2 linked regions of the Homo sapiens genome follow. The protein of the gene in region 2 purifies or fractionates together with the protein of the main gene of each other region. This does not show direct contact. Each region holds a gene or a part of one and is shown on either strand. Other genes may lie near its edges.

What was found.
Region 1: the proteins of CD99 (region 2) and OSBPL11 purify together in Homo sapiens (co-immunoprecipitation; one large-scale study listed by IntAct). This does not show direct contact.

The regions. Positions count from the first base shown.
Region 1 is NC_000003.12:125,532,504-125,537,198, reverse strand, and holds part of OSBPL11 (oxysterol-binding protein-related protein 11), read left to right. Parts: intron 1-4,695. UniProt on the Homo sapiens protein: Plays a role in regulating ADIPOQ and FABP4 levels in differentiating adipocytes and is also involved in regulation of adipocyte triglyceride storage. Weakly binds 25-hydroxycholesterol. Interacts with OSBPL9 to function as lipid transfer proteins.
Region 2 is NC_000023.11:2,689,402-2,694,682, forward strand, and holds the start of CD99 (CD99 antigen isoform a precursor), read left to right. Parts: upstream 1-1,893; 5' UTR 1,894-1,959; coding exon 1,960-2,026; intron 2,027-5,281. UniProt on the Homo sapiens protein: Involved in T-cell adhesion processes and in spontaneous rosette formation with erythrocytes. Plays a role in a late step of leukocyte extravasation helping leukocytes to overcome the endothelial basement membrane.

The DNA of each region.
Region 1 (4,695 bases), on a different chromosome or scaffold from region 2:
TGGATTACTGAGTACATGTCTTTTTTTTTTTTTTTTTTTGAGACAGGGTCTCACCCTGTCACCCAGGCTGGAGTGTGGTCGGGCGATCTCGGCTCCCTGCAACTTCCACCTCCTAGGTTCAAGTGATCCTCCTGCCTCAGCCTCCTGAGTAGCTGGGACTGCAGGCATCGACCACCACGCCTGGCTAATTTTTTGTATTTGTAGTAGAGACGGGGTTTCACCATGTTGGCCAGGCTGGTCGTGAACTTCTGACCTCAAGTGATCCTGCCACCTCAGCCTCCCAAAGTGCTGGGATTACAGGCATGAGCCACCGTGCCTGGCCGAGTACATGTCTTATTAGTATTCTGTATGACAAATTGGGAATATAAATAAGTATTTGTGCTGGCTACCGAAGAAATATAGTAGTTATCTGGAGGAAGAGCACTTGTAAAATTTTTTGAGTTACAAGCAGAATTAATCACTTTGTTCATGAAATACCATGTTTACTTAAAAGAATGATTGATAGACAAACTATGGTTCTTCTAATTTCAATGTTAGGTAGACATTTTTCTTGTAAATGAAAGACATGAATGTGATACTTAAAGAAAAACAATTGATGGTATGTTACTAATAATAAAATTTGAGCTTCAAGGCAAAATTAGAATTTTAGAAAATTGTATCTGCCACCATGAACTTGAAAACTTCCCAATTAGTTTTCTGGTGAACTTGGTGCTTATATTATTGAACGTGATTTTTTAAAATATTGTATAGTATGTCAACATCTGGAAGATCTGCATAACTCAATGAACCAGTATTTTTCAAATGACTAATGCATGATATTACAGAATCATGCATGGATAAATGATCCATTCAGGATGCACATTAGACCAGTGGATTTCCATATAAGTTATTTGAAAAAATATTGACATTCTTAAATTTTCCACATTGCAACTGGCCTTTTTAAAATTACCAGTTGTCGAGTTTTGAAACAGTATGAAAGAATTGAATTATTTGAAAAATCTGTAAAAATATTTCTTCTCTTTTTCAAACTGTATCTGTGTGAGGCCAGAATTTTTTTTTTTTTTTTGAGATGGACTCACTCTGTCACCTAAGTTGGAGTGCAGTGGCATGATCTCGGCTCACTGCAACCTCTGCCTCCTGGGCTCAAGCGATTCTCATGCCTCAGCCTCCCAAGTAGCTGGGATTACAGGTGCACACCACCACACCCAACTGATTTTTTTGTATTTTTAATAGAGATGGGGTTTCACCATGTTGGTCAGGCTGGTCTTGAACTCCTGATCTCAGGTGATCCGCCCACCTCGGCCTCCCAAAGTGCTGGAATTACAGGCTTGAGCCACCATGCCCGGCCCAGATTTTTCCTATATATACTTTAAATCAATATATCACCACAGATTGAATGTATGGGCAGATAAAGAGATGCTTCTGGGCCGGTGTGGTGGCTCACGCCTATAATCCCAGCATGTTGGAAGGCCAAGGCGGGTGTGTCACTTGAGGTCAGGAGTTCAAGACCAGCCTGGCCAACATGGTGAAACCCCATCTCTACTAAAAATACAAAAATCAGCCAGGCATCTCTACTAAAAATACAAAAATCACCTGGCGTGGTGGCGTGCACCTGTAGTCTCAGCTACTCGGGAGGCTGAGGCATGAGAATCACTTGAACCCAGGAGGTGGAGGTTGCAGTGAGCCGCCGTTGAACCACTGCACTCTAGCCTGGGTGACAGAGCCAGACTGTCTCAAAAAAAAAAAAAAAAAAAAAAAAGATGCTTCTGAATTTTATTTGCTAAAATTTTGTAATGAATTTTATAGTTTCTATATACATGAGGGATATTGCTCTGTTCTTTTCTTTAGGGGAAGGTTTTGAATTACAAATTACGTATGTTTAATATATAGGGCTGTTAAGGTTTTCTGTTTCTTCAGTGAGCTTTGGTAGTTTGTCTTTCAAGGAATTGGTTCATTTCAGCTAATGTGTCAAATTTATTGTCATATAGTTCCTAATATTACCTTATTTTTTTATCTGTGTAGGATCTATAGTGATATCCCCATACTTATTCCTTATATTTGTAATATCTTTTTTCTCATCAGTGTGACTAAAAGTTTATTAATTTTACACAAAAAACCAGATTTTGGCTTCACTGATTTAATCTATGTTTGTTTTCTTTCTCATTGAATTTTGCTCTTTTATAAAATCTCTTTTTTTCTCCTTACATTGTAAATAATTTGCTTTTTTTTTTTTTTTTTTTTTTTTTTCTAATTTCTTACAATGGAAGCTTAGGTTAGGGGTCAGCAAACTTTTTCTGTAAAAGGCCAATTAATATTTTAGCCTTAGTGGACCAAATAGCCTCTCCCACAGCTACTCAACTCTGCCCTTATAGCATGAAACATCCATAGACAATAAGTCAATGATGAGACATTGTTAAATTGCAATAAAAAATTATTTACAAAAATGGGCTGTGGGCCATAGTTTGATCCCTGGTTTAGCTCATCAATATTTTTTTCCTAAATGTTTAATGCTGTAAATTTTCCTCTGAGGACTGCTTTATTTCTATCTGATGACTTTTTATGTGTTTTCATTTCGAAATATTTTCTTATTTCCTTTGTGGGTTTTTTTTTTTTAACTCATGAACTTATTTACAAATGTGTTGATGATTTCTAAATGTTTAGAGATTTTCCAGCTAGCTTTCCATTATTTATTTCTAATTTAGTTTCATTTTGGTGAAAGAATATACTTTGTATGATTTTAATTCTTTATTTAGGTTTGTTTAATGATTCTGAATATGTTCTGTCTTGGTAAATGTTTCTTTTTTTTTTTTTAAGACAAAGTAGTGTCTTACTCTGTCGCCCAGGCTGGAGTGCAGTGATGCAGTCTCGGCTCACTGCAACCTCCACCTCCCTGGTTCAAGCGATTCTCATGCCTCAGCCTCCCGAGTAGCTGGGACTACAGGCGTGTGCCACCACACCCAGCTAATTTTTTTATATTTTTAGTAGAGATGGGGTTTCACCATGTTGGCCAGGCTGGTCTCAAACTCCTGACCTCAAGTGATCCACTCACGTCGGCCTCCCAAAGTGCTAGAATTATTCATGAGCCACCACACCTGGCCTTGGTAAATGTTTCATGTGCCCTTGACACGAATGTGTATTAAGCCCAAGAGTTTGAGACCAGCCTGGGTAACATGGCAAAACTCTGTCTCCACAAAAAATATAAAAATTAGTTGGATGTGATGGCATGTGCCTGTAATGCCAGCTACTCAGGAGGCTGAGGTGAGTGTGTTCTATAAACGTCAGGTCAAATGAGTTGACAGTATTTTTCTAGTCTTCTGTAGTCTTACAGATTTTCTGTGTATTTATTCTATCAGTTGAGTTTAGTTATTGAGATTGGTTATTAAAATTACCAATTACAATTGAATATTTCACTTTGTAGTTCTGCAAGTTGTTACTTCATTTTATTAGAAGTTCTGTTATTAGGGCAGGCATTTATATTTAGGATTGTTATGTCTTGATGTTTCTGTTTTTGTTTTAATGTCTTTGGTTATTTATGGAGAATTCCTTATAAATTCATTTTTATTTTTGAGCCATCTCATGTATCATATTTTTTTAAAAGGATATTTGATACTTGATTTTCAGAAATGTGTTAGGAAACCTTTTGGAGCCATTAAGATACATATGTAGCCTTAATTCTTTAAATTATAAGACCTTTGGCATACTATCCAGCACTTTGGGAGGCCGAGGTGGGCGGGTCATTTGAGGTCAGGAGTTCGAGACCAGCCTGGCCAACATGATGAAACCCTGTCTGTACTCAAAATACAAAAATTAGCCGGGCATGGTGGTGCACGCCTGTAGTCCCAGCTACTCAAGAAAGTGAGGCAGGAGAATTGCTTGAGTCCGGGAGGCAGAGGTTGCAGTGAGCTGAGATGGTGACAGTGAGACCCTGTCTCAAAAAAAGAAAAAAGAGAAGAGACGAGAACAGAAGAGAAAGAGGGAGGGAGGGAGAGAGAAGGGAGGGAGGGAAGGGGAGGAAGAGAAGGAAGGGGGGAGGAAAGAAAGGAAGAAAGAAAGAAAAAACAGATGTTTAGTAACTTTCTCGAGTAGTACAGTCATTACCATAAATAAGTTTTAGAATATTTTCATCCTACCGTAAGATCTCTCTTGTTCATTTACAGTTAATCCCCATTACCCCCAGCCCAGAGAACCACTAACTTTCTGTCTCTATAAATTTGCCTTTTCTGGATATTTCATATAAATCATACAATGTGTGATCTCTTATGCCTGGCTTATTTCCTTAGTATAACGTTTTTGAGGTTCATCCATGAAGTATTAATTGCATGTATCAGTGGTTCATTGCTTTTTATTGCTGAATAGTATTGCACTGTATGGATATATCACATTTTGCCTATCCATAATACTGCTGTGAACATTCTCCTACAAGTCTTTGTATGGACATTTATTTTCATTTTTCTTGGGTAAATACCCAGGAGTGGAATTGCTGGGTTTATGGTAGTTTTATGTTTAACTTACTACATTTTTTTCACATGTATATCCAGTTGTCCCAGCACCATTTGTTCAACAAACAGTTCTTTCCCTAAAGAAGTGTTGTGGCAGTTTTTTTTTGTTTTTTTTTTTTTTTGCTTGAGATTTGTTAAGCTTCCCTCTCCCTGTGCGTGGCCTAGAAACACTCTGGACAGCGAGTTAGAGCACTCA
Region 2 (5,281 bases):
TCCCAGGACTTTAAAGAAACCCAAGCAATTGCCAATCAGAAAATTCTAAAATCTACCTATAAGCTGGAAGCCTCCTGCTTTGGGTTGTCCCGCCTTTCTGGACAAAACCAATGTGTCTCTTAAATTTCATTGATGTCTCATGCCTCCCTAAAACGTATAACACCAAGCTGCACCCCGACCACCTTGAGGACACGTTCTCGGGACCTCCTGAGGGCTGTGTCATGGGCCATGGTCACTCATATTTGGCTCAGAATAAATCTCTTCAAATATGTTAGAGTTGGACTCCTTTCTCTTTTTTTCTTTTTTCTTTCTTTTTTTTTGAGACGGAGTCTCGCTCTGTCACCCAGGCTGGAGTGCAGTGGCCTGATCTTGGCTCACTGCAACCTCCATCTCCCCGGTTCAAGCGATTCTCTTGCCTCGGCCTCCTGAGTAGCTGGGACTACAGGTGCACACCACCACACGCGTCTAATTTTGTATTTTAGAAGAGACAGGGTTTCACCTTGTTGGTCAGGCTGGTCTCCAATTCCTGACCTCAGGTGATCCACCCGCCTCGGTCTCCCAAAGCGCTGGGATTCCAGGCGTGAGCCACCGCGCCCGGCCTAGTTTGACTCTTTTCGTGGACAGTTTGAAGTGTGGAATGCAAGAATATTCAGGGTTATTTGTCAGGCTGCAAAGTTGTTCCACTACCCTGCGGGAAAATGGATACAATTTTAGGCTTAGGTGTTAACAGATAACATTGTTAAGTGTGGGAAGGGCGACAACTGCACTGCAGCTGTGGCCAGTGGCGCGGGAGGGTGTCTAAACTCAAAGCCCACTGGAAGGCGAGTCGCCCATGACCAGGACTAGGGCCCAGGTGCCCCAGATAGAAGGCACCTCGTTCCCTATTGCCCCTCACTAACTCCCGTGACCAGGAGTCCCCACTCCCAACCTTGTCCTGGGGATTCTGGGGAGAAACTGCCCCAGCGCAGAGGCTACTCCAAGGGTTGTCCTTGGTCCGGCGCAAAGGGTTCGTCCGCCACCCTCCCGGCTGCGCACCCCGCGCTCGGACGCTCTAGAAAGGACTTGGGACGGGGGTTGCCTGTGGAGCGGGGGCCTAGGCTTCCTGAGCAGGGAGAGGATTGCACTTTGCTCCCCTTGGGGAACTCCCTGAGGTGAGCAGCGGGGAGGGGCCCCCATACTTTTCCCAGCAGGGGAGCCGGGAGTTTCCTCTGCTCCCACTGCAGAGCAGGGGAGGGTCCCTGCTAGGGGCGGAGAAGGGGCTGCAGGGGCGAGTGGGGAGGGGGGCTACACGTTTCCAAGAAGGGCGGCAGTTTCGTGTCGCTACAGTTGCAGGCGTGCATTTAGGAGGCTGTAGACAGGGAGGGACCCGCACTTTCCCGAGCAGGGGAGCTGCTGGGAAAGTTTGTTTTTTTGCTCCCACTGGAGACCAGGGGGTGAGGGGCGGAGAAGTGGCTGCAGGGGCGAGTGGGGAGAGGGGGCTCTATGTTTCCAAGAAGGGCGGCAGTTTTGTGCCACTACAGTTAAGGGCCGCCCTCGGGCGTGCATTCAGAGGGCTGTAAACCGGGAGGGACCCGCACTTTCCCGAGAACGTTGTAGTTCACTTTGCTTCGGGTCGGCGCCGCCCTGGCTACGGCCCTGTGGGTGGGTGAGGGGGCGTGGGCAGTTTCCTGAGAAGGGGCGGGGCGTGTACCGTACTCCCCTCGGCGCTGCCTGGGCCACCCCCGCCCGCCTACCCCCTCTGTCTCCTCCCCGGGCCCGGCGTTCCCGCCCCTTCTGTGCGCGCGTGGAGGCCGGGGCGGGGCGGGCGCAGCCGGCGCTGAGCTTGCAGGGCCGCTCCCCTCACCCGCCCCCTTCGAGTCCCCGGGCTTCGCCCCACCCGGCCCGTGGGGGAGTATCTGTCCTGCCGCCTTCGCCCACGCCCTGCACTCCGGGACCGTCCCTGCGCGCTCTGGGCGCACCATGGCCCGCGGGGCTGCGCTGGCGCTGCTGCTCTTCGGCCTGCTGGGTGTTCTGGTCGCCGCCCCGGGTGAGCGAGCGGAGGGATCCGGGTTGGGGGACGCGGAGGGCGCGGGCCGGGACTGGGGATCCGCTTGAGATGCGGCGTTGGGGGCGCCCCGCGGGGACACCCGGAGCCTCCTCCCTGCCCGGCAGGACGCGCTGTGCCCACGGGGGCCCAGGCCCGGAGGAGGCGCCCACTTTCTCCCCAACGCTTTTCCTGGAGCCGTTCCAGAGAGAAAAGTCAGCGTTTGTTGTCGGAGTTGCAAACTCTTACATGTGGGGCGGCCTTGGGAGAGGTGCGTCCGATTTTTCCCAATCTAGGGGACCTTCTTACAGATCTCTCTCCCTTTGCATGAGCCCCTCACCCCACCCCGTTATCTACCCCCAGGGTTTGGGGACCTGCGTCTTCAGGCCGCGCGCGGAGGCCGCCCTGGAGTTGCCTGTCACAGCCACGCCCTGCGTCCCGGGCCTAAATTTGGAATCGCTAGGAGCCTGAGACCCGGGTGGTGGGGGGAAGGGAAGGAAAAGTTAGAAAAAAACTTTGAGCCCTGAAAATGTTCAAAAATACTCTGTGGATGCGGGCTCCGGGAATTTCAGCGCGTGCTGTGCGCCAAGCAACACGGGGCGCAGAAAGAAACGTGTGCTTACCAAATTGTCCATCTGCGGCGGTGGAGAATTCGGAAAACAGAAAAAGTGGGCAGGGAAGAAAGAGCCACGGTCACCCTCCCACGCCCTAAACCGGGCCTATTTCTAATTATTACTTTAATCATGTTTTTCTGTTTCCCTCCCTTTGAAACGGAAACGGAGACCCTGCCGGATGTGGTATGTTATAAATTCTTTTTTCATGTTATAAATTCTTTTTTCAATGGTCAGTGCATTTTTTGCTCTTCGTATGGGCAGGCTTTTAAGTAGACCGGCTTGCGGGCAGTGTGGACTTCAGGACGGGCCTTATCAGGGCTGGACGTATTTAGGAAGGAGACGCGGGAACGCCCGGCCCTGGGGAGGACGGAGGAGGCCCGATTTGTGTTGATAGGATCTAGCTCAGCCTAGAGCTGCGGTGACTAGGCCGGGTCTCTATTTTTAGGGAGGAGTTGCTAATGGATTTACACCCTCTTTAAAGGGGTCCCGGGTATCCTAGAAATTGTGCTTTCACTTGGTAGAGATTAGAGATAATGAAGCCTGCTCCGTAGAGGAAAACTTGGAGGACTTTCCAGCCTGCAGGGGAGGTTCCAAGCAGAGCTTCCTGTTTCTCCCTTTTCTTCCTAAATGTCCTTCTTGCGGGCAACCTGTCACCACGGACGGGATGGCTCTGTAGGGTTTTATCAGCTGCATTTGTTCCCCAGGCACCTGCAGATGAACGGGTTTTTCACTTGTCTCTCTGCGAATGCATTCCTTCATCCTTCATGCCTGCCTTCCTTCTTTTGCACCTACTGTGGGCTTGGGGTCAGGGAAATATATCCAAGGGAGTGCTGGTGGCCTAAGAATTCAGTTTCCTGGAGAACAGAGGCATCTGAACAGGCAGACGGGAGACAGGGCCACAGGGACCTTTATAGTTCCATCACGAAATAACTCAGGGGTTCCCAGTGGTAAATCTTGGTGAGGGGCTTGGCTGGATTTTGAAGCCCTAGGGACAGATTTGCCGGCTGGTCTGGCGTTCCAGGTCATTGGAGCAGAGTGAGTGGAAAGCCTTATATTCTCTAAGCCCCAAACAAGTCGTTGCACAGTTTTTTTGTTTTTGTTGGTGGTGGTGGTTTTTTTTTTTTGGACGGAGTTTCACTCTGTCACCAGTCTGGAGTGTAGTGGCACGATGTCGGCTCATTGGCGTTGCACAGTTTTTAAACCCACAGCAGTGTTCATCTGGAACTCCTGATTTTGGAAGCAGACTGGGCTTAGGAACTCCAGCTGCTGATGCTTTGAGTAAAGGGAAGAGTACCTGTCTATGGGGTGGGTGGGTAGGGAAGAGCAGTGGGATAGGGGCATAACAGGGGCCAACCTATCCTTCCAATTGCAGAGGAGGGCCTGGCCGTCAGCACTGATGGATCTCCTTGAGGGACGCTTCTCACCCCTTCTTTGCAGTCTGACCCTGCTAGAGATGGAGACAGAAACAGCCTGTCCCAATAATATTAATACACGTTTCATCGGGAAAGTTGACTTTTGAGTTGGTGATGCTCAGAACACACTTTCTTATAGCAACGTGCATCAGGCTGCAAAACCCCGTTGAGCCTGAAGTAGGTTCTCAGACTGGTGCTGATAGCTCTGGCCTGATCTCAGAGTGTTGGGGACCCTGTGTTCCTTGGTTCCTTCATAAATTCTCAGGGGTACAGGTGGGATGTGGTGAGGGATGGATGGACAGAGGGAGGTGTATAGAGGAAAAGAGGAGGCTTCAGCTTTGTAGAGAGCAGGATGTCCCCACAGGGCGACGTTGGCCCCGAGGAGACACTTTGTGATGGTTGCAGACATTTTTGGTTGCCACCCTGGGGTGGGACATCCCACCATCCTGCAATGGGTGGGGCAGCTTAGGGAAGCTGCTCAGAATCTTTCAAGGGCCAGGACGGCCTCCAGCACAAAGAATTCATCTGGTCCCAAATGCCAGTGGTGTTGAGGGTGGAAAACCCTGAGGAGGGCTTGGGAGTTGCATGTATGCGCTGATTCAGGGCTGCCCCTGCAGTTAGGAGCCTGCCGTCCCGACAGTAGAGTCGCACACATCCGATGCATCCCTGCTCTCTGGCAAAGGCTGATTTGCCCCACCCCCCGGGGCAACGGCACAGCGGCCTGTGCGGTTTGAAAAACTCCAAACATCTACGGAACCGACATCTCTTGAACAATACCAGGCCTCTTCAGGATTCCCTCGCCCCAGTAGAGCAAGTGTGGGCTTCGTTGTTTTTTTTTTTTTTTAACTCTCTCCAGAGCTCTTGTCTCCTGCCCCTGTGGGTGTGTGTGGAAGTTATTAGGAGAATGTTTCTGGGCAGAGGAAGTGGGTTTTATCATCCAGCGAGTTTGCCTTGATTTTCCATCAGCGCGTTTGGCTCTGGTAAAAGTTGATTGCTTTGCATTTAACTCCCTACTTTAGGCCGAGCACGGTGACTCAGGCCTGTAAATCCCAGCACTTTGAGAGGCCGAGGGCCGGTGGGTCACATGAGGCCAAGAGTTCGAGACCAGCCTGGCCAACATGGCAAAACCCCGACTCTACTAAAAATACAAAAATTAGCCGGGCGTGGTGGTGAGCGCCTATAATCCCAGCTACTCAGGAGGCTGAGGCAGGAAAATCACTTCAGCCCGGGAA